6 separate regions of the Homo sapiens genome follow, and regions 1, 2, 3, 4 and 5 are each linked to region 6. The links come from fine-mapping of genetic effects on gene expression. A gene starts in region 6. Each other region holds a variant in brackets. All regions are shown on one strand. Distances are between the middles of the regions.

Evidence for each region.
Region 1: its variant is fine-mapped to the expression of OGFRL1 in whole blood (TOPMed, PIP above 0.99).
Region 2: its variant is fine-mapped to the expression of OGFRL1 in skeletal muscle (FUSION, PIP 0.93).
Region 3: its variant is fine-mapped to the expression of OGFRL1 in whole blood (INTERVAL, PIP above 0.99).
Region 4: its variant is fine-mapped to the expression of OGFRL1 in whole blood (INTERVAL, PIP above 0.99).
Region 5: its variant is fine-mapped to the expression of OGFRL1 in thyroid (GTEx, PIP above 0.99).

The regions. Positions count from the first base shown.
Region 1 is chr6:71,248,562-71,253,519 of GRCh38, reverse strand. It overlaps LOC124901339 (a long non-coding RNA gene), which reads left to right. Exons shown (of 6, transcript XR_007059640.1): 6 at 1,876-2,162. It also overlaps the pseudogene LOC100132834. Among named protein-coding and RNA genes, the nearest start is that of OGFRL1, 38 kb to the left of the region's middle. RefSeq lists a silencer at 1,778-2,045. The variant G/A (reference allele first, on the strand shown) is at 2,948.
Region 2 is chr6:71,331,899-71,336,856 of GRCh38, reverse strand. LOC124901339 (a long non-coding RNA gene) reads left to right here and starts at 777. Exons shown (of 6, transcript XR_007059640.1): 1 at 777-4,958. The variant T/C (reference allele first, on the strand shown) is at 2,663.
Region 3 is chr6:71,215,605-71,220,562 of GRCh38, reverse strand. No RefSeq gene overlaps it. Among named protein-coding and RNA genes, the nearest start is that of OGFRL1, 71 kb to the left of the region's middle. The variant A/G (reference allele first, on the strand shown) is at 2,468.
Region 4 is chr6:71,231,097-71,236,054 of GRCh38, reverse strand. It overlaps LOC124901338 (a long non-coding RNA gene), which reads left to right and starts at 1,283. Exons shown (of 3, transcript XR_007059632.1): 1 at 1,283-1,512; 2 at 2,398-2,542. The variant G/C (reference allele first, on the strand shown) is at 2,532.
Region 5 is chr6:71,264,225-71,269,182 of GRCh38, reverse strand. The region is part of intron 5 of LOC124901339 (a long non-coding RNA gene); the gene reads left to right. Among named protein-coding and RNA genes, the nearest start is that of OGFRL1, 22 kb to the left of the region's middle. The variant G/A (reference allele first, on the strand shown) is at 2,545.
Region 6 is chr6:71,286,240-71,291,197 of GRCh38, reverse strand. It overlaps OGFRL1 (opioid growth factor receptor like 1), which reads right to left and starts at 2,387. Exons shown (of 7, transcript NM_024576.5): 1 at 2,028-2,387. The coding sequence starts at 2,261. The region is part of intron 3 of LOC124901339 (a long non-coding RNA gene); the gene reads left to right. RefSeq lists a silencer at 1,675-2,734.

The DNA.
Region 1 (4,958 bases), 38 kb after region 6:
TTACACAAAAATTTAAAACTACCAATTTGTTAAACTTAGAAAAGATACTGATTTGTAACTAAAAAAAAAAAACCTTTACATTTTTATTTCTCAAGGTAGCTTACCTCTACTTTCTGAAAGTTGTAAAATTTTTGGTTTAAAAATTGTCACTCTATGATTGTCCCAATTTGTTTTTCTATGCCATGACAAAAACAAAATACTTTCAAAATGTTCTGAGCATTTAAATGAACATTTAAGTGTATGTAAATAAACTTATTTAAGTAACTTTTATGTTGGTAATAAACCAACACATGCATTAAATACCTCTTCAGCGTAAACAGGAAATACTGATGACGATGCCAGCATGGAACTGTCAATTCACATTACAGCACAATTAATAATCAATCTGACTAGTTTAGTGATATTTAAAGGACACAATTAGTCACTATATCTGCCAGAATAATTGAATATGTTAACATTCTCCTCGCGTAAATACCAATTTCATTATCTCATATCTTTCTCTTTACTCGTCTCCAGATAGCAATAGCCCTCCCTGTGTGGGTCATGTAGAAATGACCCAGAACTTGTTGGTCTAATATTTTCGGTCTAATTCTTTCCAACCTTTGGTAAACTTAGAAAGCCTGCAGGGATCTCATATTGATGATTTTCAATCTTTTAATTGTGATAGTCTTTTTGTTATTCTGTCTTTTCACCTTCCTTTGCCTGTCCATCTATAATTTTCAATTCAAGTTTATATCAGTCTCTTTCTTGAAACCTGGAGATTTCATCAGCCACAGATTTCCTTTTTTTTTTTTTTTTTTTTTTTTTTGCCTTTTCCTTTATTTCCTTTTCAAGCCTCAAAAATTCTTCCTGTTTTTACTTCTGCTGGGTATTACTTTCAGGTAGTAATTTTAGTTTACATTGACATTGATGGTTTTTTTGCCACTTTGTCTCTTTCTCTTCTTCCTCTTTTAGCTTCCTTAAAATATAAGCATATTTAATTGACACTTAAATATTTTTCTGTTTTTTCTAAGCTTCAATCACCAATTTGGTTTTTTTGCTCCTCTTTTTGCTTGTGATTACATTCTTGTTTACTTTGAGGAAGGACTGGCTTATCCTTCATCTTTCCCTTTAACTTGAAAGTATTCTCCCTGTTTGCTGTTTTTTAGTTTTCCAATTTTGAATAGATTTTTTTTCCTCTCTTCTAGAGTCAGACATTTTTAATGTATCTTTCATACTGTTGCACTTTATCCTGTGCTTTTCCAGGATGGTGTTGCAAAACTTTCCCTATATATCTTGTCTTCTTTTTATGTTTGTTTCTCATTTTTACAAAGTTCTGGTGATCACAATCATCCAGCACCCTTGACATCCTCCTGTTTACTGAAGGAATTTTGCAAAATCTACCATTTCTCCTGGAAGACTACTTTGTTGTATTCTGTCTACAGGAACTTTGCTTAACATTCCTCTGAAAGTTCTCCATGTTTCTAGTGACCCAAAGCCCATATGTCAATTTTCCTTGATACAGTATTCAACTAATTTTTGGCTATTTTCTTGTCTTTATTAAGCTTTTCATGTAATCAACCTCTGTTCTTTCTTAAAACTGTTTACTGTATTTTTAATTGCTTAGGTTCATTTCTCTGAGCTTTGCAACAAAATCAGGTGTAGGTGTCACACTTTATAACTGATGCTAAAGTCACTTTACATTGTTATATATTTTGAACAACTGTTATTGGGTTTTTGCTCTATTTTCCTGCTGATAATCAATTTATTTTCCAATTCTTTCAGCACACTGCCAAATTCTGAAGTTTTGTTGTTGTTGTTGTTGTAGAGATGACTCTATGTTAACAATTTGATTTTTAATTTTTACTGCTGTACATATGAACTTTGTTTTCTTAGTTTGAATAGCTCTCTGGTTCCAGTTTGAAGCTGAAAAGGTTAAATTCTACCTGAAGGATGAAAACAACCAACATTCTGTGCCAAGACAGTCAGGAGGGCAACCATGTTTCCTGGTGGAGCCTCTGGAACCACTCAAGCCAAGATGACCGGGGGTTTGGCTGGGAGGAGATGGGGAAACTACAGACCCTACAGATGGTTTCCTGTACCATGAGGTTAAGCCTGGGGGCAGGAGAGGCTGTACCTTAGTTCCTTCATCTGTAAAATAAAGTAACATAGTACCTACCTCATAAGGGTGTTCTAATGATTGAACTTATTATACGTAAACTTTGAACAGTTTGTGGCTCAGATTATTATTTCTAGTTTCTCAGATCAGTTTTTCTGTATTTTGACCTTGCTTATTCTTTTGAATGCTGCTGACAGTTCTCACATTTCTCTTTATCCTTTGTTGTCCAGCCAGGTTTTAAAAAGAAGGTGTAGATCACTAGGGTTTCTTTCCTCTGCTGTTGCATGAGTAGGATTATTTTCCTTCTAGGTCTCTGTAAGAAGAGTTTTGACCGAGAACTTCATGCACTCTGTTGAAATGGAGCACATCTGCTATAAAACTTCACTTTAGGGGCTGATGAGCAGGAACTGAATGTCAAGCTATAGATCCCTAAATAAGGTTGGCTTTCATATGCCCTATATCCTTTTCAAGATTTCAGTTAATAGGGCATTAAATGGGAGTAGTGATGATACACTAAAGTGGTAGATATTGTGAAAAGAATGTATAGAGTACAATAAAATCTTTACATAAGTTCTGCACTTGACAAGGGAGAAGAATCAATTGCTTAATTAAAAGTGAAATGTTTTTATCACTTTGAGATAATGCCCTAGGATGATTTTGAAAGTGACATGTAGTTGACTCTCTAGAATTGAGAGTAATTCTAGAATCATTATGATATTTTTTTGTGCATCCTTTAATTTTATTTAATAGGACAATAGATTTTTATTTCCCCCAGGCCGAGGCAATGGAGTATCTTTGAGTAATCTGCAAGCTGGTCCAAAGGGAATAACAAAGGAGGAAATATTCTTC[G/A]TAAACAAGCCCTGCAACCCAAAAGTGGAGTAAGAATTTCCTGTCCCAGTCTTAGGAGATGGTCAAAAGCTCTGCATATTTCTCCACTGAATTAGATTTCATAACTTCCTGTGATGTCATTTGCTATTTTTCCCCTGGCTTGAGTTAGGACTTCCCTTTCAGAGTTTTGTCAACCCAGTTTTCTTTAGACCACTTTAGAAGCAAGAATATCTACTACAGATTCATGAAAAGAGCACTGAATAAGAAGTTAGGATAAGTGGATTTCTAAGGCCAATTTTCCTTCTTACAATTTGACTTCAGAAACGAGTACTCATACCAAGCTCACATTTCCTAAATAATTCACATTCTTGAAAGGTAGAAAGAGCTGTCTTACGAAATGGTGTGTTTCCTGTCATTGAAAGTATGCCAAAAGATGCTTGAAAACCACTTCTTAAGACTCTTGTGCAATTTTCATATAATAAGATTAGACTTGATGGTTCTATAAAAAAAACTCTCTGAATCTTGAAACTCAATGATTCTGTGCTTTAGTTCTATGAAGAGAAGAGAAGCAGGGAGGGAATGATGAAGGGATCTAGCATATCTATTCAGCCTTGTGTGGATTTCAGCCTTGGTCTCTGGAGATGCTTCAAGCTTCCTAAAGTGGTACTTCTGCCTGTCCATTCTGACTCCATCCTTAGATACCCACTTTCTGATCCAAAATAAGCATGTCCATATGAATATGTTTAAGTCAGAGGCAGCTAGATGTGTACCCATAACTGGAGGGTGGCTAACCAGTGCAAACATAGATTTCTTTACATTCTTATTCTTCTTTTTAAAAATCTTATGACTTTTAAATTGTATCTCATAATACCTCTGTTCTAACATAAGATAATATTTTAAATTATCAATTATTGGCGGTGATGAACTTGCCCCAATCCATCTATGCAGATGTTTCTTCCTATGCACAGGGCAAATGCATTTAGTTTAAGAAGCTCAGGGCAACACATTTGACTGGCACACTGGATTCAGGTTTATTATCCATGGTCTTCTCACATCTTTGGAGTCTGTCTTTGCAAGACCCACCCCCTCCATCATACCAGGTCCCCATCTAATATGGAAGGAGGAATCTAATGATAGGAGAGGTTCATGGTGTTGTTTAAATAGCCCCCTCTCAGCTCATTCAAGCAGCTCTTCTCAGTCGACTCTGAACTGCTTACAATGACACATTATAGTAGAATTATTTCAGAGACCTTTTTCAACTCAATCTGGGTGTGCCTCATTGAGCTAATAAAATCCTCACCCCTGAGAAATGGTGTAATATGTGTTACATTTTGCTACAATTCATGATATGTCTTTGGAGAAGAATTGTACATTTTATATAATTTGTCAAGGACAATTTCAAAATGCATAACATCATCAATCTCACTGACAACATCGCTAATGGCTTCACTCAGTAGTCAGAGTTTTGCCAAATGCAAGCTAAGACTCAGGCCATCACACACCTGCTCCCAGCCTATTGTTTCAGATGTATCATCTGTTGAAAAGTTAACAGAGTAGGAAAAGAATTCATCCTTGAAGCATTTCCCCTCTAATTAAGTCAACAGATGCTGTTTGAAGTCTATACCTGGGGAATTTATTACTTCAGTTTTAAAAAGTAAGAGAAATTCACAGATCTGCCTTCATAATAATTGTGTTTTTTTTTTATCAAGGTCACCAGCCTAGTAATAACTGATAGTAGTCAAGAATTTGTGATGGTTGTCATTTTCAAAAACATTGGAATGACATTTTCCAAAAGTGCTTTCATTTGAATTATCATCTGGGCTTTATTGCTCCTGGGCTGGGCTCTCCCTCTCTTGGCGGGAGGCTAGACAGAGCTAGCCTTGCTCAAATGGGCTTAAGGGGTTGGGGGAGGTGGCAGGAAGTAGCTCTCAGGACCTTAATGGTTGGATGGAGGCAGACAGCAAACAGTGAAGTCAGAGGTCAAAGTCAGAAATGCATAGCTAAACCAGTCACCAGGGCAGAAACATCCTGA
Region 2 (4,958 bases), 46 kb before region 6:
TGTCTGTTCACTCTGATAGTTTATTTTGCTGTGTGGAAGCTCTTTAGTTTAATTAGATCCCCTTTGTCAATTTTTGCTTTTGTTGCAATTGCTTTTGGCATTTTTGTCATGAAATCTTTGCCTGTGCCTAGGTCCTGAATGGTATTGCCTAGATTTTCTTCTAGGTTTTTATAGTTTTGGGTTTTACATTTAAGTCTTTAATCCATCTTGAGTTAATTTTTGTCTAAAGTGTAAGGAAGGGGTCCAGTTTGAATTTTCTGCATATGGCTAGCCAGTTATCTATCCTGCACCATTTATTAAAAAGGTAATCATTTCCTCATTGCTTGTTTTTGTCAGCTTTGTCGAAGATCATATGATTGTAGGCCTCTGGTCTCATTTCTGAGTTCTCTATTCTGTTCCATTGGTCTATATGTCAGTTTTTGTACCAGTACCATGCTGTTTTGGTTACTGTAGCCTGGTAGTATAGTTTGAAGTTGGGTAGTGTGATCCCTCCAGCTTTGTTCTTTTTGCTTAGGATTGTCCTGGATATTCAGGCTTTTTTATGGTTCCATGTGAATTTAAAAATAGTTTTTTCTAATTCTGTCAAGAATGTCAATGGGTAGTTTAATGGGAATAGCATTGAATCTACACATTACTTTGGGCAGTATGGACATTTTCATGATATTGATACTTCCTGTTCATGAGCATGGAATGCTTTTCCGTTTGTTTGTGTCATCTATGATTTCCTTGAGCAGTGGTTTGTAGTCCTCCTTGAAGAGGTCCTTCACTTTCCTTGTTAGCTGTATTCCTAGGTATTTTATTCTTTTTGTAGCAATTGTGAATGAGAGTTCTTTCATGATTTGGCTCTCTGACAAGCTCTGTAATATTCTTTTATACATCCCTGCTTTGGTATTTGCTGTTTTCTTTCTTTTCTTTGCTGTTCTTAAAGAAGTAGCTCCAACTTACATCCTACCCTTGGGCAGAATTGCTTTTCTCTCACAGTACATATCTTTATTGCAAACCACCCCATTATGCATTGTGTGTCTGTATGTGTGCCTATCTGTCCCTCCCATACACTGCTCAGTGTTACCTTTGTTAGATGTGAATCACCAGAACAACAGATGCTTTTCATTCACCTGCTAAAAAGACCAGCAGGTATCCAGGACCCACTGAGCACTGTGGCTAGGCAGCATCTCTCAGAATGTCTGCATACTTCAATTGCCCCTTTTGAGTTGCATAGTAATCAAAAGTCTATTGCATTTGTTCTCACATCTTTATAACAGTTTTACTAGTTATGATAAGCAAGTAATCTCATTAAATATTAAACAAACATAAAATGAGCACAGCAAAAATGAAAGTTTTATTTCTGTGAAATGTATTCTGAAAGCTTTGGGAAAACTTGATAAAGGAAATCACAAAACAAACAAAAATATCCTGACAAATTAATTATGGGAAATACCATTATACACAATTGAAGGGAAATTTTTAAACATCCAGATGGATTCTTCACTCAGATATATTGCAAGTATCATTAAATCTTTGCTCCATTTTAAAGAAGTCACAGTTGAAAAGTATGATGCATGGATGGGTCAGTTTTTATCAAGAAGAACAAGCTGTAGCTCCAAACAACAGTGTCAGTTTAATAATTTAAAAAAAAGATCCTGGCTTTACATCACAAGATTGGCAAATCAATTAAAGGTATAATAAAAATGTTTAAGAAATATCCCTTTTAACCTTCTTTAACCCATGTTTAAACATGAACTAGCAAATCCTTGACAAAAGGCCTTCTACTGAACTTTACCCTGTCTCCTAACCTTTGCTGCTAAGAGTGAGTAAAAATAACAGAGTCAAACTGAAACTAAGGAAAGGAGGAAACCCCTCTCTGATGGGGAAACTGAAATGTGACTGACATGCTACCTGTGACTATGAGTCACCTTATGGAGGACACTGGGGTAAATGAGGTATGAGAGATGGAGACAGAAAGCCTGCTGATTTGGACCCCTGAGAGTTGCTCCCAAGACCAGGCACACACCTTTTGTTCTAGAATTAATCACACAAACAGCATCTTTTCCTTTTTATTTGAGTTCTTTAAAGCTGGGTTTGTTTCATGTGTAAACAAACAAGACCGGGTAATAATAATTTTAAAACCTCTACCTTACATATTAAGGAATTACTATGGAATCTTTTAATTGACCCAAAAATATTACTGGATGTAATATTACTGGACATCTCTTCTGTGCCAGGCTCTGAGGATGGAACAGTGAACAAATCAGACAGTCCGGGTTCTCCTGGAACTTACAGGCTAGTGCCCCAAGGGCTGGAAAGGATTGCAGATATATATTTTGTATTTACATCACACTAATATTTGTATCATAATATTATTGCATTCATTATGTGTTAATAGTTGACAGATCCAACATGGACCTTGAAGAACATGTGAATATTTTCAAGGGAGTAGCCATAAACCTTTATTTGAATGCCAGTGAAAATAATTACATACTCCAAATCATATTCCTGTGCCATTGTCAAATTCAGAATTTGGTGTTAAAGGAACTGTAAGACTTAACAAGCAAGGCAATTTCTTATGTTCTCATGATACAAATATATAGAGAGTAGCCCCACGTGGATTGGTTACTGCTGGGTGACAGTACTTGTAGAAATTCAGAACTGGAAGATGCCTACA[T/C]GTAAGGAGTGTGAAGAACAGAGGAATTAACTGGTTCATTCATGGTCAGCCAGACTGCAAATGTGGCAGTTCCCAGCCAGGTGTTCACAGTAGGTCACCATGGCTTGAAAATATGTCACAAGTAGTTTGTTACTCATAATAAAAGAGTAACAGTTGAAAATTATTACTTTTTTTCAGAAATTAGATCACATTTTGATTATTCCTATAACATGCTCATTTGCATTCCAAGATTCATTCTTGAGCAGAAGAATGAATCAGCTTATTCCCTGCTTGTGAGCCAGAAATTGCACATTCCCTGGGAAGTTCCTGAGAGAAGATTGTGCAAACCGAGGTTACGAGTCATGTTTCTTGTCACTGGACACATAAAGGCTAAGAATCTTGTGACCTGGTGGAAAATCCAGGACTAGAACCCAGTATTTTGAGTTTTTTAGAGAGTCTTGTTTTTTAATCAACTTATAATAAAGGGTAGGATGGACTCTCAATCTTTAAATATGGAGGAGAAAATTTAACATGTGATTATTAGTGGCCCACGAGAAATAAACCCACATCAAATGAAGCTCAGTTTGTGGTATCTCTAGAACACTTTCTTCCTCTGTTCCTCAAAGATCTGGTGGTAATTTTAAAACCTTGTCTAACTTCTGTTTGTTGTAGAGGAGGTTAATACTTTGCCCAAACTTGGGCTTCATCACATGGTATTAGAACATGCCAACTAATGCCCTATTCAAATACCTCAAATAAAATAAAATAAAATATCATTGATTTGGGCCCAGTGCTATAAACTTCAGTTTCCAAAAGCTTTCAGTGTCAATTACTTCCCATAGCAAAGCAGTCCACAAGCCTCTTGATGATGTTTAGAGTCTTATATCATCAATTGCAGGCCTGTTTATACTTCACAATAAAATCTAATTTCTCGTACTTACTGTCAGAGTTAGGCAGCCTTATTGAATTGAATTCCTAAAGAAAATGATGATCTCAGAAGTAAACTTGAACTTATTAAAACAAGCTTGCAGTCCAAATTTCCAGCAGCAATGGGGCTTCCTAATTCAGTTAATTCAATACATGCTACTCAGCAGTTTGAAGGATATACTTTCCAGAATATAGTGAGATCTCACCCTATTAGAGGTAAAAAGTGAATTGAATGCAATTCATACAATATTAATAACTTGCTCTACTTTACAGCTTAGTAATAAAGTTATTTATGCTCCCAGAGGCGTTTCATGACATTCACAGTAGAAAGATGGCAGTAGACAGGTGGGCTGGGCCTGTGACATTTAGAAATAGCAGAACTGTGACACCTTCCTGTGAGGCTACATAGGATGATGGCCAAGGAGAATGACCCTGGTACAAAATCTTTATAAGCAGCACACTGAAGAAGAGACATAGACTCTAAATAAACTTCTATCCTACCTTTTGGAACAAGTGAATAGCAAAAATTGTAATTTAGATGAACATAGTCTGGACATAGATCAACTAGCTACCACACCACAAATTTATCTTTCCCAGATCAACTGTATCCTTTCAAGATTTAAATTACACATTTCGCCTAGCTCCTCACACATTAACATAAGTTATACTCAACCTCCACTATACACATAGATGAAATTTTTGTCTTTAATTATGTACTGTTTTATATTCTTTTATCCATACTATTTTCTATTGTTTCCTATGTTCAGTTCCAAGCACCTAGAAAACGATAATCACATCTTATGCAGTGCTCCCCTATCTCCCACAACACCTGCCACAGTAGTAAATAAAAGACCAATGCTGAAGAAGTGTTTGTAAATAAAGAAAGAAGATGCCAAAGTTTTATCTGATAATCATTTTCCATGATCAGATGTAGGATGTGCAAACAGAAGGAAGTGGCATCATAAATAATTCAAAGTAGCAGATAATTGGAAGGTCATTTCTATTTTACTTTGAAATGCATTAAGGCTGGCCACAACTTTAAACAACAGCCCACTTATAGTCTCATCAGCAAATGATGAGTCATGTGCTGTGATAAACTAAAAGATGAAGAGGAATGGAACACAGTTTCCGTATTTTGTCTACACAACATTTATCACCCACTTCCTTCTAGCATCCTATTAGCCTTCTAGGTAATTAGCTCCCCGATTATGTTCAATCTTGTTGGGAAAGTAAATCCAGGCATCACTGGATTCACTAATTTTAACTAATTTCTTCAACTAATTTCAACTAATTTCTCTGTTATTACCTGGCATAACTAAGGGCTGGTACATCACTTATACTTGGCCAATCAGACACACTTTTCCAGGGCTTGAACTTTAGGCCATGTTAT
Region 3 (4,958 bases), 71 kb after region 6:
AATTGCTGCTGTGCCAAGGATAAACACATGTGTAATTTTGTTAGATAAAGCCAACTTCCCTGCATAGAGACTGTAGCATTTTGCGTTCTCATCCACAATATTTGGGAACCTGTTTTTCATAGCCCTGTATACAAAATGTGTTATCGAGCTTTTGAATTTTTTAATTCTAATAGGCGAGAAATGGTATCTCATTGAAGTTTCCATTTGTATTTATCTTATTATGAAAGAAGTTATAAAACTTGTTATATATTTGAGGGCCTTTTTTCTGTGAACTGGTTGTGTCCTTTGCTCATTTCTTAAATAGATTTTGAAAAATCTATTTAAGAAATTTTTGTATGTTAGAGCTACAAGTCCTGTGTTTATCTATGATAAATGCAACATGGAATGATAGTGGAGATGGTGCACATCCTTTTTAGGGAAATTTTTGAGACAGATAAACATAGCCAATATTTTGTCCCCATCTACCATTTGTCATTTGACTTTGTTTATGGTGTTTTAAGTCATTCAGAGGTTGTTGTTTTTTTGTTAATGTACTTGAGTGTATCAGTCTTTTATTGTATCTGGAACTTGAGTCATAACTTATCCATAGCTTACTAAAAAACTTCACCAGTTCTCTTCCAGTCCTTGTGTGGTATCTTAGTCAGTGTGTGCTGCTAGAACAAAATACCTGAGACTGGGTAATTTATAAAGAACAAAAAGTTTATTTCTTACAGTTCTGGAGGCTGAGAGTCCAAGATCAAGGTCCCAGCAGTCTTGGTGTCTGATAAGGGGCCCTATCTCTCCTTCCATGATGGCACTGTGTTGGTGCATCCTCCAAAGGGGAGATGTGCTGTATCCTCACATGGTGGAAGAAATGAAAGGGCAAGTAAGCCAAATGCTGTGCAAAGCCTCTTTTATAAAGCCTTAATCCCATTGTTAAAAGAAATGCCCTCATGGTCTAATATTCTCTTAAAGGCCTCACTTAATGCTATCACATTGGCAACACCTGAGTTTTGGAAGTGACATATTCAAACCATAGCATATTGTTTCATATTTGACATTAGATGTCTGCCCCATTTAGAGTTTGCTCTCGTCTATGATGTAAAGTAAGGGTGATTTTCCAGTTGTTCTAACATAATTTATTAAAAAGCCTGTGTTTTTGAACAATGAGAACACATGGACACAGGGAGGGGAACATCACACGCCAGGGCCTGTTGGGGGGTTGGGGGCAAGGGGAGGGAGAGCATTAGAACAAATACCTAATGCATGCAGGGCTTAAAACCTAGATGATGGGTTGATAGGTGCAGCAAACCGCTATGGCACATGTCTACCTGTGTAGCAAACCTGCACGTTCTGCACATGTATCCCAGAACTTAAAGTAAAATAAAAACAAAAAAAGCCTGTGTTTGCTCAGTGATTTGAGACACCATCTTTATCATATATTACATTTTTATATGTGCTTGTTTCTCTTTCTGAAATTGCTATAATACTTTTTTTTTTACTAATGTGTCTCTGTATGCACCTGTACCCTCTATTTTAAGTACAGAAGTTTGTATAACTTTGGTAATTGGTAAAACGTTATTCAGAATAAATTTTCCTAGCTACTTTTTTGTTTATTTTACAATATGAACCTTAGAATCAACTTATACAGCTCTAGAAATAAAACTTGTTGGATTTTTGTTAGATCACATTTAATTTATATATTCACTTGGGGAGAATTAACTTTTTTATGTTGAGTCATTCTATGTAAGAATAAAGAATTTCAGCCGGAAACACTGGCTCATGCCTGTAATCTCCAGGACTTTAGGAGAAGGTAGGAGGATTGCCTGAGCACAGGAGTTCAAGACCAGCCTGGGCAACAAAGTGAGACCCTGTCTCTCAAAAAAAATTCAAAAAATTAGCCAGGCAGGGTTGCACGTGCCTGTGGTCACACATGCCTGTAGTCCCAACGGCGGCTCAGGCAAGAGGACTGTTTGAGCCCAGGAGTTTGAGGCTGCAGTGAGCCATGATCTTGCCACTGTCCTCCATCCTGGGTGACAGAGTGAAACATCATCTCAAAACACACACACACATACACACACACACACAAACACACACACACAAGAATTTCTTTTAATTAAAATCTGCTTTTGTCCCTTTTCAGGTGTATTTAAAGTTTCCCTTGTAGATTTTTCACATTTCTTTTTAAGTTTATTCCTATTTTATATTTTTGTTGTTGTAAATGGGGTTTTTCTTCCATTATGTCTTCTAACTGGTTATTGTTTGTATATATGAGATTATTGATTTTCATATAATAAAATTGTATCCTTACCAAATTTATGTATATGTTCATTTTATTACTGACTATCTCAGGTTTCCCAAGAATATTATCTCATCAGTAGCAAATAGACATAGTTTTATTCCTTTATTTTTCCCCATTCTTGTGCCCCTGTTTGTTTTGTCTTATCTGAATACAATGTCCAACACTCCCAATTCAACATGAAATAAT[A/G]GTGGAGATAGTAAACATCCTTCTTGGGGCAATTTTTCAGACAGATAAATGTAGTAGTGTTTCATTTTCCATAGTATAGTAAGTGCAACCTGCTAGGGCAATAGACAACTGTCCCCAGGCAGAAAACCTGTTTTATTTGTGATACTCCAAAGGGTGCATTTCTGTAGAGTTAACTTTAAGATCCAATTTTCTTTTAATGCAGAGATCAAGGAAACTTTCTGATATTACCTCAAAAAAGTCTTGAAGAAATTCTTTTGAATTATATGTAGCAAATGGCTGTCTTCTCTCTGTGTTGATGGGGTGGTCTAATAAAAGCCACAGAAGTCCTGGAAATAGGAAGAGGATATGTCTTTGTGAGATCAAGTCTCAGGGCAAAAGCCAGGTTCCAGTCACTGGCAGGATAATGGAAAACTAAATTCATCTGTGTTTTTATGATTGTAAAAAACATGCATTAGGTATTTGTTCTAATGTAGTACTTTCTTAAATGTGTATGTGATTAGAAATTCTTTGGTGTAGAAAATCTTGAAAAAATTTTTAGTGACAGGGCAGCAGAGAATATAGTTATTATAGTATGTTCTGGCCAAATTCATGTAATAGCAAAACTGTCATCTCAATTTCAAGTTGCTTCTGCATACAAGTGAATTTAATAATAACATATGGGGGTCTTTTTAATCACAGATGCCCCAGGATAATTATTAAAAGATTTTTCTGAAAATTGTATTTAGTAAGACTTAATCCTTGGAAGTAGTTTGGGAAAAAAGTTATGCTACACTAAGGTAGCACATTATCTGAAGTAGTAACCAAATTTACAGTAAAAAAAATTATTGCTATAAGAAGTTATCAATCCTTATACATATAAAGCAAGTCAGAGAAGCCTCACAATGTATCAATGTGAGGAGAAAAATGCTAACTAAAAAAAATTAGTGTTTTTCTTATGGACATACTTATATAAAAAAGTATTTTTTCCAAGCAAAGTGGCCAATAATAAACAAAATTCTGCATAAATCAAAGGTAGAAAAAAAAGTCCTTGAATGATAATGTTTTAATCAAAATTTCCTGAATTCCCCATTAACCTACTTATTTTGATGGCATATAAATGGAGTTCTATACACAAGGGAAAGTCAATATTTTGACAAAGAAAACTCCAAAAAGAGAATGGGCTAAAGTAAGTTATTTCTTGTTGCAAGTAAAAAATCACCTTTAGTGGTGACTACAATTGTATTTATATTTGCTATGTTAAAATAAGTTTTTGTTCAACAGTATCTGACTTTTTGAGGCAAAGGACTTCTGTATTGTGCTTTTATTTGAAACTTGTGTTATCCATATAAGTGCCTTAGTACTTCACTTTTTACATGTCAACACAGCTATTAAACATATATATGTTACCTACCATGTGCCATGATGGTGGATAGACAGTAAGTGGTCCTTATTTTCAAGGAGCTCACAGATAGTTGGCAGAGACAGAAAGGAAAACTGATTACTGCATCTAGAGATTAAAAGGAAAGGCACAGCGATATCAGAAAGAAGGCAAGATCAATCCTGCAGGGGTCATCAGGGAAAATTGCACAGTCACAGAGACCTGCACAGCAGAAGAAGGGTCAAGAGAAGTACAGGCAGGGTATAGAAAAAAGAATAATTCGTTAAAAAATCATGTGTTTGGGAAATAGCAAGACATCTGGAATGGTGGCAACTCTTTGTTCAATGTCTGTTTTCCCAGATAGATTCCAAGGTCTGTAAAGCTAAGAACTATGTCTTTCTCATTCAGCATTATATTCCTTTCCAGTGTCTAGCATAGTATCCAGCACTTTTAAGAAACTCAGTGACTATATTCATGTTTTTCTACCCATGCTTCTTAATATTTTTATTAATCATAGAATACTTAATACATATAAAAGTTTATAGTATAATAGATACCCATATACCCACCACCCATATTAAGAAACAAAATATTACCAATCTACTTAAGGCCTGTTATGAACACGCCCACTTCTCCCCAACCAATAACTACTACTGTGAATTTTATATTTAATAATTTTTGGCTAAATTTTGTATTTAGCAATTTAGTTAATATATTTGTGGAAATATTTAAACTTGATATAACTATTATCATGATGTATATTTTTTCCTTGATTTTGTTTCTTTCCTTAACATTATGAGATTCGTCCATGTTGACCCTTGTATTAATTTTCATTGCTACATAGTAGTCTGTTGTGATTATACACAATTTTTCTTTATCAGTTTTGCTTATGATGGGTGTTTATTTCCAATAGTTTGTTCTTACAAACAATGATGCTATACATGTTCTTGTACATGTCTGTTGTATATGTAATAGAGTTTCTGTTCTAGGTATACACTTGGAAGCAGATTTGTTGATTAGTATTGCTCAGCTTTCTCACCAGTACTTGGAATTGCAGCCCTCCTCTATTTTCCCTGATTGGATATATGTGAATGGTATCTTATTATTTTATTTTGAATTTCCCTAATTATTTTT
Region 4 (4,958 bases), 55 kb after region 6:
GAGAAAAGAGCTGTGAGTTTTCCAAAATTGAAGAAAAATATGTCCTCAAATTGAAAATGAACTATAAAAACCAAGAAGGATCTACAAAAATATATTCATACCCAGACTTACCAAAGTAAAACTGGAATACATCAAGAATTTGGACATGTTTTTACCAGCTACAAGGAGAAAAACAGGTTACAACAAGAAATGGTAATTAAACAATAAATCAAGTGGGCTTCTCATTAGCAACCATAGATGCCATGAAACAATAGAGAAATAAATTCAATATAATGATGGGAAACTGGAAATTTAGAATATTATATCCAAATAACTTAGCAACACAAACAAGGTGCTGGAAAATAGATTCTCAATCTATAATATATTCCTGTTTAGGTTCTTGGGTTTCTGAGTAGGATAAAAATACTAGATAATTTCAGATATTTTTAAAATTATAGTTATAATTAATATATAATTCACAGCTTTGTATGTTAAAAGCTTAAAAATATTTTTATTGGAAATTAACAATTGAATATATCTATATATGGAAATGTAAAGGACCAAGACCAGAGAAGACAATTTTGAAGAAGGACAAAATCCCTCTAAGGGTTATCAAGATGTATTGCAAAGTGATGATATTTAAGACAGTTTTGCATTAGCATAAAAATAGACAAATAGAAATATGGAAAAGAATAGAAACATTTGTGACAATTTGTTTCATGATAAAGCATAATGCAAATGAAAAAAGAATGGTATTTTTAATAATGATTTTGGGTCAACTGGTTATCTATATGAGGAAAAAACACATTTTGACATCCTACCTCACATGACACACAAAAATCAATTCAGGGTTGGAGGTATATGCCTACCTGAAAAGTAACAATTAAACATCAAGAAGATAAGAGAGAATATCTTTATGACCTTAAGATGGGCAAATTTTTTTAAAGAAAAATAGTGATTAAAGGGACATAATTAAAATTAAGAACCTCTGTTCATCAAAAACCCCAGTAAAATAGTCATATGGTTTGGCTGTGTCCCCACCCAAATCTCATCTTTAATTGGAGATCCCATAATCTCCATGTATCATGGGAGGGACCCGGTAGGGAGTCATTGGATCATGGGGGTGGTTTCCTCCATGCTGTTCTTGTGATAGTGAGAGTTCTCGTGAGATCTGATGGTTTTATAAGTGTCTGGCATTTCCCCTGCTTGCACTCATTCTCTCTCCTGTCACCCTGTGAAGAGATGCCTTCTGCCATGATTGTAAGTTTCCTGAGTCCTCCCCAGCCATGCAGAACTGTGAATCAATTAAACCTCTTTTCTTTGTAAATTGCCCAGTCTCATGTATTTCTTCACAGCAGCATGAGAATAGACTAACACAAATAGTGGAAGAGAAGACCACCAACTGGAAAAGATACTTTCAATATTTTTACCTGACAAAAGATTATTATCCAAAACATATTAAATGTTTCTGTGAAGCCATATAAAAGACAGACAATCCATTAAAAAATTGGAATAAACTTGGATATTGAACAGGTAATACATGAAATACAATACATAAATGGGTGATAGCCATATAAAGTGCTCAAAATCATTAGTAATGAATGAATTAAAAATTGTGTGCATGCAGCTACACACTCATCAGAATAGGTAAAATCTAGAGAAACAGGTATTACCATATATTGAGGATATGCAGCAACTGGAGCTTTTATGCACTACACATGGGAATATAAATTGGTACAACCTCTTCAGAAAACTATTTGGCAGTAACTACTAAAACTAAACATAAGCATAGCCTACAACCCAGTAATGCCAGTATTTCACTCCTAGGTATATACCCAACAGAGTTGTAAATGAAATGTCAATGAAAGGCAGGTACAAAGAATGAAATGAAATTAGAGAATGTTTAAAACAGCATTATTTGTAATCCCCAAACACTAGAAACAATCCAAATGTCCAGCAAGAGTAGAATGGATAAATAAATTGTGGTGCATTCGTTCAATGGGATACTTCATAATAATAAAAGTAAATTAATCATCAATATAATCAATAACATAGATGAGTCTAATAACATAAGAATGAGCAATAGCAGCCAGATGCAGAGTTCATGTCATATCCCATTTATGAAAAGTTCAAAACAGACAAAGCTAATCTATGGTAAAGAAGACAGATATGGTTAACCTTAAGAAGAGAAGGGAGATACTGAGGGCGATTCAGGGTATTGGCAATGTTCTATGTCTTAATCTGAGTTATAGTCACACAGATGTATTTACTTTGTGAAAATATATTAAAATCAACATTTCTGCATATAAGTGTGCTCATCTGTATGTATTTGCTATACATGAAATAGAAAAATAAGGCATAATCTTAGGGTTACCAATATAGAAATAGAAATAATCTTGATATTTTTCAAACCTCCAGAGGAATCAAAAGAAGGAGGAAGAATAGAATGATTTGGAGGAAAAGAAGGAGAAAGTAGAGGAGTTGAAAAAAAGGAAGAAAAAGAAAAATGCAGAATCCTTTGTCAATCCAACAGAACACAGCAAAAAAGCAAA[G/C]AAAGTGAAAGGTAAGTAGATAGCACAAAAGGAAATGGTACAAATAAGCCCAAAAGTGTAATGTATCAGAGTCAATGTGGATAAAATTCACCTATTAAAAGGCAGAGATGGGATAATAATAACATAAATCCTGCTGTATCCTGGTTAATAAAAGGCACACCTAACACCAAACCAAAAGAAAATTTTGAACATAAAGTTTTGAAAAACTAAGAGGTTTTTATTAAACCTCTTTTATTAAACCTATTTTATTATTTATAGTAAGATGACGTGTTAGTCCATTCTCATGCTACTAATAAAGACATACCCAAGATTGGGTAATTTATAAAGAAAAGAAGTTTAATTGACTCATAGTTTTGCATAGCTGGGGAAGCCTCAGGAAACTTACAATTATGGTGGGAGGGGAAGCAAAAACATCCTTCTTCACATGGCGGCAGCAGAAGGAAGCGCCCAGCAAAGAGGGAAAACCCCTTATAAAACCATCAGATCTCTTGAGAACTCACTATCATGAGAACAGCAGCATGGGGGAAACCGCCCCATGATTCAATTACCTCCCACCAGGTCCCTCCCACAACAGGTGGGGATTATGGGAACTACAATCCAAGGTGAGATTTGGATGAGGACACAGCAAACCATCTCAGGTGCATTATAAAATAATACAGAACAATCCCCAAGCCAATAAAATAATCTTTAACTTGTATGCACTTAAACATAACATCGCACTAGGCAGAGAAAACTGATAGGATTACAAAAACTGACAAATCCAGAACTATAGTAGGATACGTTAAACACTTCAATAAGAAAAAAGGTCAAAAATAAAAAAGAAAAAGAAGAAAAAACAGGTCAAATAGAAAAAGCTAGAAGAATATAGAATATTTGAAATACTTGGTTGTACCTAGCCCTAGCTTAGCTCTCTCCCTACTCCTGCCTATCTTCCAAGACATACACACCTAAACCCTCAGGCTACTTAGAAGTGAGTATAAATCAATTACAAGCTCTCAAGCTACATCTTGTAGAGAAATACCCTCACATTCAGTTAATATGGGAAGGGACCTAAGGGGAATTCACTCAATCTATACCAGAACAAAAAACAGAGTTCAGATGCAGAGCTCACTGAAAATATGAACAAGATGAAAAAAGGATGACATGAGAACTAGGTAAGCAGAACAAAAAATAAGAATGAAAGGAACTCTATAGCAACAAAGAACACAGAGAAATATTCATGCTATAGAAAATCTTATTAAGTACATGAAATGAATAAAATACAAGCTCAAATGTAAGATGATAACAATACAGAATGATGTAAAAATGGAAATTGACAATATAAGGAAACAAATTGAAACTAAAATAACACCATTACAGAACTTATAAACAAATTACATGCAGAAAGAAATTTAATGGACATGGCTGAAAAATAAATTGCTCTACAAAGAAAAGGCTTGAGATAAGCACAGTAAAATCAACGGAAAAAGATGAACAGATTAGTAGAAATAGAGAGAAGATAATAGCTAGAGAGAAGTGACAAATATGCCATTATATAAAGATAATAGGTATCTCTGAATTGAAAAACCAGTAAATGACTCAGAAAAAGTATTCCAATAGAAAATAGAAAAATAATCCTGTAATGCAAGAATAAGACACTCTGCAACTCAAAAGTGCATATCATATTCCAAGACAAACATATTCAACCCTATTTTTCCTAAGTCATATTCTGTTGTTACTGAATTTAAGAATAAGAAAAAATTATTTAGCCATCCAGAGACAAATAATAAGCCTCTTATATTTGGGAGCAAAGCAGACTGGACTCAATCTTCTCTGGAGTAACATTCTGGGTTACAGGATGATAAAGCAATGTCTACCAAGTTCTAAAGGAAAAGAAATGTGATCCAAAAATATTGTATTCCACTAAGATTCCACTCAAGTATAAATACCACAAATAGATATTCTTAAATGTGAGAGAATATAGTCATGCATTGCTTAATGACAGGGATACATTCTGAGAAATGCATCCTTAGATTGATCTCTTTACTGTGGGAATAGTGTACTTACACAAACCTGATGGTATAACCTAATACACACCTAGGCCATATCATATAGCCTAGCTCCTAAGCTACAAACCTGTACAGCATGCTAATGAACCAAATACTGTAGGCAATTGTAACATAATGGTAAATATTTGCATATCTAAACCTATCGAAACTTAGAAAGGGGATAGTAAAAATGCAGTATAAAAGGTTTTTTTTTGTTTGTCTGTTTGTTTGTTTTTTAATGGTACTCTTGTATAGGACACTTAGTATGAATGGAGCTTGCAGGACTGAGGGTTGCTCCAGGTGAGCCAATGAGTGAGTGGTGAGTCAATGTGAAGGCCTAGGATATTACTGCACACTACCATAGACTTCATAAACACCGTAGAATTAGGCTCCAGTAAAT
Region 5 (4,958 bases), 22 kb after region 6:
AAACTACAGCTGAGGGAGAGAGAGGACTATGAGAAGACCACATCCCCATACACACTGCTGCCTAAGATAGGGCTTAATAGGACAGAGAGCTCCTCCTCCCCATCACCAGGCTCACAAGTGGAGTAGCAAGTCACAGTGGGATGTTGCTGGAAGAGGCCCAAGAGTGTGGGCACAGACCATTTCTGAGGTACAGTGCAAAGGGAAGATCTAAAGCTGAAGATGGAGCAGAATTGAAAAAACTACAGGCAAACCAGCCCCCAACTGAACCACAAAGTGTCACTAAAGGAATTTGATGCTTGTGGTGCCCTAAGGGTAACCACTACAGTGGAGGAAGAGAATTAAACTCAGCCCAACTCCTAACGCAGACTCACACTCTAGAATCCTAGCAGAAGGACAGACAGGTGTATGCATTTTCAGGCATAAAATCTATTTTCCTCATCTCTGCTGTCCTTAACAAGGTGTCTGGCTTTCAACAAAAAATTACAAGTCATACAAAAAAGTGATAAAGAAAACAACAACACACTGTCAAAAATAAAGCAGTCAACAGAACCAGACCCCAGATATGACAGAGATGTTGGAACTATCTGACAGGAAATTGAAAATAACTATGAGTAATATGATATAGCTCTAGTGGAAAAGGAGAACAACATGCCAGATCAGATGGGTGATTTCAGGAGAAATGGAAACTATAAGGATCAATCAAACTGAAATGCAAAAAGTGAAAATCACAGCAACAGAAGTGAAGAATGCCTTCAATGGGCACATCAGAAGATGTAACAAAGAATCAGTGAACTTGAGCATCAGTTTATAGCAATCACCCAAACTGAAACACAAAGAGGGAAAAAAATTCAAAGCTTCCTATGTATTCACCCAAGAGAAGTGAAAACTTATGTTCACACAAAAACCTGTACATGAGTGTTTATCATACTTTATTCATAATCACCCCAAACTGTGTGGCCCAGGTGTATTTCAACCAGTGAACAGATAAACAAACCATGATACAGCCACACAATGGAATGCTACTCTGCAGTAAAAAGGAATGAACTATTGATGCTTGCAAGCATATCGATTAATCTCAAGTATATTTTGCCAAGTGAAAGTAGACAGACCCATATTATTTCATGTATGTACCTTCCTGGAAAAGACCAAAATTGTGACAGAACACGGATGAGTGGTTGCCAAAGATTGCAGGTGCGGGTAGTGGTTGTCTACAAAGGAGCAGCACTGGGGAACTTTTGGGGTGAGAATTGATTTGTGTCATGACTGTGCAAGTGGATACATGGCCCTAAGCATTTGTCAAAATCTGAGGAATTATACAACTCAATGAGTGGATTTTACTCTATGTAAACTAAATAAAAATATACTAAGATGTGGGGGTATCCCAAAATGGAATACAAACTATCAAATGTTACTAGTCTAACGTATGAGTGACATTACCACACTGACACAGATGGAGAACAGAACTAACCTAAGTAACTTTTAGAAGTCAGTATTTTGATTGGATTCTACTAAAATGAAAGAAAAAAACTATTGTACCTAGTTGCTATGTGCTATTTAATAAATGTGTTTCTCACAGGGGTATGAGTTAGCAATTCTGAAACTACTTGTGTATACTAACATTGAAAAAAAAGCAATTTTATTTTAAACTGTGAGAGCCAGTTGTACATTTGAGAAAGAACAACACTGTGGCTCCCTCCTCTCCCTCTCCCTCCTCTCCCTCTCCCTCCTCTCCCTCTCCCTCCTCTCCCTCTCCCTCCTCTCCCTCTCCCTCTCCCCCTCCCCACGGTCTCCCTCTCCCCACAGTCTCCCCCTGATGCTGAGCCAAAGCTGGACTGTACTGCTGCCATCTCGGCTCACTGCAACCTCCCTGCCTGATTCTCCTGCCTCAGCCTGCCGAGTGCCTGCGATTGCAAGCGCGCGCCGCCACGCCTGACTGGTTTTCGTATTTTTTTGGTGGAGACGGGGTTTCGCTGTGTTGGCCGGGCTGGTCTCCAGCTCCTAACCGCGAGTGATCCGCCAGCCTCGGCCTCCCGAGGTGCCGGGATGGCAGACGGAGTCGCGTTCACTCAGTGCTCAATGGTACCCAGGCTGGAGTGCAGTGGCGTGATCTCGGCTCGCTACAACCTCCACTTCCCAGCTGCCTGCCTTGGCCCCGCAAAGTGCCGAGATTGCAGCCTCTGCCCGGCCGCCACCCCGTCTGGGAAGTGAGGAGCGTCTCTGCCTGGCTGCCCATCGTCTGGGATGTGAGGAGCCTCTCTGCCTGGCTGCCCAGTCTGGAAAGTGAGGAGCGTCTCTGCCCGGCCGCCATCCCATCTAGGAAGTGAGGAGCGTCTCTGCCAGGCCACCCATTGTCTGAGATGTGGGGAGCGCCTCTGCCCTGCTGCCCCGTCTGGGATGTGAGGAGCGTCTCTGCCCGGCCGCCCCGTCTGAGAAGTGAGGAGACCCTCTGCCTGGCAACTGCCCCGTCTGAGAAGTGAGGAGCCCCTCCGCCCGGCAGCCACACCCTCTGAGAAGTGAGGAGCGTCTCCGCCTGGCAGCCACCCC[G/A]TCTGGGAGGGAGGTGGGGGTCAGCCCCCCGCCTGGCCAGCCACCCCGTCCGGAAGGGAGGTGGGGGGGTTAGCCCCCTGCCCAGCCAGCCGCTCCATCCGGGAGGGAGGTGGGGGGATCATCCCCCTGCCCGGCCACCTGCCCGTCCGGGAGGTGAGGGGTGCCTCTGCCCGGCCGCTCCTACTGGGAAGTGAGGAGTCCCTCTGCCCGGCCAGCCGCCCCGTCCGGGAAGGAGGTGGGGGGGTCAGCCCCCCGCCCGGCCAGCCGCCCCGTCCGGGAGGTGAGGGGCGCCTCTGCCCGGCCGCCCCTACTGGGAAGTGAGGAGCCCCTCTGCCTGGCCAGCCGCCCCATCTGGGAAGGATGTGGGGGGGTTAGCCCCCCGCCTGGCCAGCCGCCCCATCTGGGAGGTGAGGGGCGCCTCTGCCCGGCCGCCCCTACTGGGAAGAGAGGAGCCCCTCTGCCCGGCCAGCCACCCCATCCGGGAGGGAGGTGGGGGGGTCAGCCCCCCACCCAGCCAGCCGCCCCATCCGGGAGGGAGGCGGGGAGGTCAGCCCCCCGCCCGGCCAGCCGCCGCGTCCAGGAGGGGGGCGGGGGGGTCAGCCCCCCGCCCGGCCAGCCACCCCATCCAGGAGGTGAGGGGCGCCTCTGCCCAGCCGCCCCTACTGGGAAGTGAGGAGCCCCTCTGCCCGGCCACCACCCCGTCTGGGAGGTGTACTCAACAGCTCATTGAGAACGGGCCATGATGACAATGGCGGTTTTGTGGAATAGAAAGGGGGGAAAGGTGGGGAAAAGATTGAGAAATCGGATGGTTGCCGTGTCTGTGTAGAAAGAGGTAGACATGGGAGACTTTTCATTTTGTTCTGTACTAAGAAAAATTCTTCTGCCTTGGGATCCTGTTGATCTGTGACCTTACCCCCAACCTTGTGCTCTCTGAAACATGTGCTGTGTCCACTCAGGGTTGAATGGATTAAGGGTGGTGCAAGATGTGCTTTGTTAAACAGATGCTTGAAGGCAGCATGCTCGTTAAGAGTCATCACCACTCCCTAATCTCAAGTACCCAGGGACACAAACACTGCGGAAGGCCGCAGGGTCCTCTGCCTAGGAAAACCAGAGACCTTTGTTCACTTATCTGCTGACCTTCCCTCCACTATTGTCCTGTGACCCTGCCAAATCCCCCTCTGCGAGAAACACCCAAGAATGATCAATTAAAAAAAAAAAAAAAAAAAGAACAACACTGTGTTGCTGAACTAGAATTGGATTGGAACTCTGAACGCATAAATATATATACACAGACTAATGTAGATATAGACATAAATGTAAGTACGTGCTGCATGGGGCAAATATATATATTTATTTATACACACACACTCACATATGTATATATGCATGTGATCTCTTTTTTATTAAAATTCATGCACCTCTTTCAAGACCAGCTCAATGCTAACCTTATCCATTAAATCTTCCATTTTGACTTCTGTAGATTCCCATTTTGCTTTATAATTCTCTTATAGCATCTGTCAGATTTGACTTGCACTTTTGTACATATCTTAGATTTTTGTACATATTTCCAGATATCAAACTCTTAAAGTTTGCTTGTTTGGATTATATCTTTTACAACACCTTCCATGGTCTCTTAAATTGTATAGATACTCAGTAAATGTACTGAATGGGATTTAATGTTAGAGATATCTAGACACAAATCTGAACATGTAGGAATTATTACATGTCCTTGAGGTAATCGGTTATCTTCAAGCTAGACTCCTCCTTAGGGCCGTAGAAGGCCCAAAGATACTCTTCAGGGTTCAGTGCTGGGCTCTCAACATTTTCCCTTTTACTGTATCTTCAATATTATCTAGTCCCCATGGCTATGAAAACTAAATGCTGATCATCCTTGAAGGTATATATCCAGCCTTAACTTCTCCTCTGGGAAACTTGGGCATCTTCCTGATCCCCTTGCCATTTCCCTCTCCTCACTTGCCCCCAACCCACAAGGGAGGTATGTGCCAGCTCTCTTCCAATTCTCCTCCAGTTAACCCATCACTGTCATAGTCTAAGCCAGCATCATCTCCCACCAAACTTCTAAAGGCTTCTGAACTGATCCATTGTTTTACACACTTTATTTCAACTCTTTCTTCATAAAGCAGTTAGAATGATTGTTTTTAACATCTATATCAAGTGTCAGTTTAAATTTTTGAAAATTCTTCAGTGACTCTCCATTGTACAGAATAAAATCAAGTCCCTTTATGTTTTTGTCCTCAAAGCTCTGCATACAACTGTGTTCCCAGTCATGAGCCTATAGTCAGTTCCTAAACTCAGCAGTCTCTTTCCTTCTTTAGGGCTTTTGCAAACACATTTTACTTCTGCTGGAACAGAGTTTCTCAAACTCTCTGTGGGGAAGGATCAAATCTTTTTCC
Region 6 (4,958 bases):
CTTCCTGAAACACTGTCAGTATTTGGCTTACAGGCTACTATAACTTTCTTAGTTTACTTTCTGTCTCATTGGGCTCCCCTTGTCAGCCTCCTTTTTTGGCTCCTCCTCCTCTTCATACCCTCTAAATGGAGGGGTGCCTAAGGTCCTCAGTCGTCATCACTCCTTGATAACCCCTTATCTTCCCATGCCTTTAAATACCATTGATCTCAGATGCTGAGGACTCTAGTCCTGGACTGTCTCCATTCATAGATGTAATTTAACTACCCAACAAATGATTAACTACCCAACAACTCTACTTGGATGTGTAATAGGATATCAAACTCAAGAGAATCGTTGATTTAACCTCCATAGCTGCATTCTCCCTAGACTTCCCTGTCTTGGTTAATGTCACCATCATTTGTTCAGTATTCAGAGGGACTAGGATGATGCAATGGAAGTGGTGTGAAGGAGTCAGTCTGGGATACGCTTTAAAAGTAGCTCCAGTATTACCTGCAAGTGGATTGACTCTGAGGAATAGACAACAAATAGGGTTGGCAGTCAAAAGGCAAAATTGAAAAGCAGATTTTTTGGGGAAGTCAGATGGTGATACTAACAAGAAAAATTAATCATTAAAAGGGAATAGGGAGGGCTGGTGTAGTCTACTAGTTACTGGGGTTGCAGTTAACTGACTGAACATTATTAAAATGTTTTATATAGATGGACCTGGTTAGTTGGATTGAATCTTAGCTGGTGTTTTTTGATATTCCAAATTTCTGTAGGAGGTTACTTAATTGGGAGACAAACGTAAGGGAAAAACATGAGAATGCAGCATCTAATAATTTAATAAGATTGAATTAGCAATGCAAAACAACAGCGGCAAACCAGACACAGGGGCAGATGGAAATTCAGAATTCCACAGGTCCAAGGCGCTGATATCAGTGATAGATAGACTTGGGTTTGCATCATCCTCTCCCTCAGTGATCTTGGGCAAGTTTTCCTTTCTCTCTAAGCCTCAGTTTTCTCTAAAATGGAGACCACACAGCAAACACCCACCCCAAAATTGTAGTTCATTTAAATAACACGTTTAACACAGAGCCTGCACTAAGACTTTATGATTTCCTCCTTACCTAAATAGAATTGATCATCAAGATGGCTGAGGCGGTGTTAGCTGTAATATTTAGGTTATGATTCCCCCAAAACCCTGTGGTCACATTGGACTTTGGGCTCCATTTTCCCAATCTCCATCGCCCCTAGCTGATAAAGAGAAGGGCCTAATGTGGAGCGGCAAACCTGAACCACCTCCAGGATGCACACTTCTTCAGGGGGTCGGCTACATATTTCCTCCTTTTTAAAGTTCCTGATTATTTTCAGTCCATCAGAGGTTAAGGGGCTTATCTCTTGACTAACCTCTCCTCCAAGCTGTATTAGTCAAACAGTTCAAACACAGTTGGATCAACAAGTCTTCTGGTGAAATAAGATTCGTGAAGAATGCCCTGAATCCTAGGTTGAAAGGCCTGAGTTGGGCAGAACAGTGACGTATGAACTTCAGATGAGGGCCTACACTTCTGACGGCTTAGACCCCACTGTAGGGGAGAGCGCTGGCTGCTTGCACTTGTAGCCCCACCTTATTCTGAGTAATTTTTTTTTTTTTTTTTTTTTTTTTTTTTTTTACCAATAACACACACTAGAGGGGTTGTCAAAATCCTCTATTTTTAGACAGGTTCCTCCCACCCCACCTTCGCATAATCCAGCTGCTCTGCAGAGGCAAAGAAAACACCCATTCAAGTTGGGTTCTGCCTTGAGGGACTTCCTCGCCGTGCCCTCGGCCAGGCCCCAGGCCGGCAGTGGGAGGGTCCGGCGCTTTGGGCTCCTGCAGGCCCCCGGGCTCCACCGGGAGACAGGTCAGCCGCGGCGCGGAGGGGTCGGGTCGCAGCGGCGAGCAGCCACCTGGCGCCCCTGGCCTCCGAGCGCGAGGGCGGCTTGGCACTTGCCCCTCTGGGGTGTCGGGGCGCCCCAGCCCGACCCGAGGCCACCGCTGGGCCGCGTACCTGCTCGGCGCCCGCCGCCTCGGCGTCCTCGTCCGGCGCGGGGCTGGCGCCGGGCCGCCCGCCGGCTTGCTCCGGGGGCTGCGCGGGCTGCTCGGACTCCTGCCCCGGGCCCTCGCTGCCGCCGCCCGGCCCTGGTTCTTCGGGCTCGGGCTCCGAGTCGGTCTGCCAGGTGGAGTCGCAGTCCTCCACGGTGGTGGGCTCGCGGAAGCTGACCCCGCCGAGCAGGTTGCCCATTGAAGAGGCGGCGGCGGGCGCGGGGCTGCGGGGCTGCGGGGCGCAAGCTGCGGCAGGCGCTCTAGGGCCCGGGCATGGCCGCGGCGAGGGCGCTGGGCGGCAGCCTAGGCGCGCCCGCCCCGCACTGCCTCAGCGCGGCGAGCGGCGGACAGGCACCCTCGCGGGGAGGAGCCGGCGGCCCCGGGACCGCCGCCGCGCGCGCCTGAACCCGCCCATCCGGCTCCTTCTCCTCCCCACAGGCGGGAGCTGCCGCCGCCCAGAGCCCCCAGGGGAGCCAACTGCGGCCCCCAGCCGAGCGCCACCGGCCCCAGGCCGCGCCTCCCTTCCACGTTTCTCCCCGGAACACCTGCCTTCACGCGGCCCCCGGCGGCCCCCGGAGTGGATTGGGGTCGGCTACTACCCTCGCCGCCCGGAGCCGGGGGACGCCCTCCCGGGGCATCTCCCAGCTGAGCGGGATGAGGGATCCCGCCCAGCTCCTGGAGCTGAGGACTGGCGTGGACGTGGTGTCGAAGAGGTGTCACCGTCAGCAGGCGGGTCCTGTCCACACCCCCTCCCCCTCTCCCTGGTCCAGGAGGAAGACACTTTAGCTGCAGCAGAGGACAAAAGCTGATGGTGCCGGGCACCATATAAACAGGAAATCCCAGCTGCCACAACTGTACTTAGGGCAGCCACCTAGAGTCCTTGTGGTCTAGAAAAAGTCAGAGCTATCAGTCACCTCATCTAATGAGCAATCGCTCGTGAAACAAAAGGAACAGTAACAACTGGACCATCACATTGATTTGCGGGTAACCTTACACCCACTACAAATTGGTGCTCCGTGTAGGCAAAAATCTCAGAATCAGTAGAACAGATGGGCTGTTTCTAATGGAAGAAGCCTCGGCCCTGTGGTCTGTTCTGCAAATGAAAGGAGGAGGGAGAACTGTGTTAGGGAAGTTCTTTCTTTTTTCTGTTCTGTTCTGTTCTGTTCTGTTCTGTTCTGTTCTGTTCTGTTCTGTTCTGTTCTGTTGTTCTGTTCTTTCTTTTCTTTCTTTTTGAGACAGAGTCTCCCTCTGTTGCCCAGGCTGCAGTGCAGAGGCGCGATCTCGGCTCACTGCAACCTCCGCCTCCTGGTTTCAAGCAATTCTCCTGCCTCAGCCTCCCAATAGCTGGGATTACAGGCATAAGCCTATAGAAGTACGTAAAGATAAGGTAGTATTATCAAATATGTGACCCAGAGAAAAGTGACTGTTGTAAAATGTGTCTTCTGGCTTTCTAACTAGAAGGGAAGCCTCTTTGCAGGCAGCCCCCGTCTGAAAGTGTGTCTGTATTTACAGTGCTGTCAACTTGGTGGATGCTCAGTAAACATTTGTTAAATATGGACTAAGAAAGATGAGCTAGATATTTGAAGATTAAACTGTTGAACTTGGAATGAATAGTTTCTTTTCAAATGTTTCATGATGAAGTAGGAAGCCAAATCATGTTAGATGGACTGTTTCTAAGGGAAGAATCAGGTAAACCAGCTGCCTATTCCATGGATAAATCAGGATTACCTAAGCTCTTCATGCACTGCAACAAGACATCTAGGCTGTAGCTCTGTCACTAATCAGTTTCTGACTTTAAGTAGGTCACATGAACCTAAACTTCCTCATTTGTAAAATGAAACCAGATCTCTGGGAGCCCTTCCAGCTCTGACCTTCTGTGATCCTATGACTGGGAAAAGCTCTGAAACTAATAAGAAATAGACACGGGGTGCACAAAAAGACTTTTGGGGCCGGGTGCGGTGGCTCACGCCTGTAATCCCAGAACTTTGGGAGGCCGAGGCGGGCAGATCACCTGAGGTCAGATGTTCAAGACCAGCCTGGCCAACATGACGAAACCTCATCTCCACAAAAAAATATAAAAATTAGCCTGGCTTGGTGGCGGGCGCCTGTAATCCCAGCTACTTGGGAGGCTGAGGCACGAGAATCACTTGAACGCGGGAGGTGGAGGTTGCAGTGAGCTGAGATCAGGCCACTGCACTCCAGCCTGGGCGACAGAGTGAGACTCCATTGCCCCCACCCCCCGCCAAAAAAAATACTTTTTGATTATAATGGCTTAGCAGAAGAAGATGTGGGGCAGCCACATACCACAGGAATCCAACTGCTCAAAGCTGGGAATTCGATTTTCCGTTGGTAGAAGACCGGAACACATTGCAGAAGTAGATATTGTCCATCCAGCCTTAAGTGTTCCGAGATTGTTGATGTGGAAAGTCTAAGGATAGTTGTTGTGTCCCAGGCGCTCCATCTGTTGGTTTAGGTGTATGTAGATTAAAGTTGGCCACATGTTCTTTGCTCTCTTCCCATTGAGAAGTAGTCTTATTCCTTACTCTTGAAGGAGCTGGCCTCAGTGACTTGCTTAACTATAGAATATGAAAGAAGTGATAGTCCAGGATTTTCTAAGTTAAGCCATAAGGAACCTTGCATTTTCCACTGGGTCTCTTGGAATATTCTCTCTGTTAGCCCCATGCTGCCATGTAAAAAGTTCAGCTAGCTTGAGACTGCCATACTCCTAGAAAGGCCACTTGTGTGTGGCCTCTGGTCATCCTCTGGTCATGGTACCAGCTGAGGCCTACCTTCCAGTATCCCCTGCTGGATTCCACGTTTTTGTTTTTTTTTTTTTATTGAATCCTCCAGACCAACCCATCCACCATCTGAATACCTTTCAGTGACCTCCATCGAC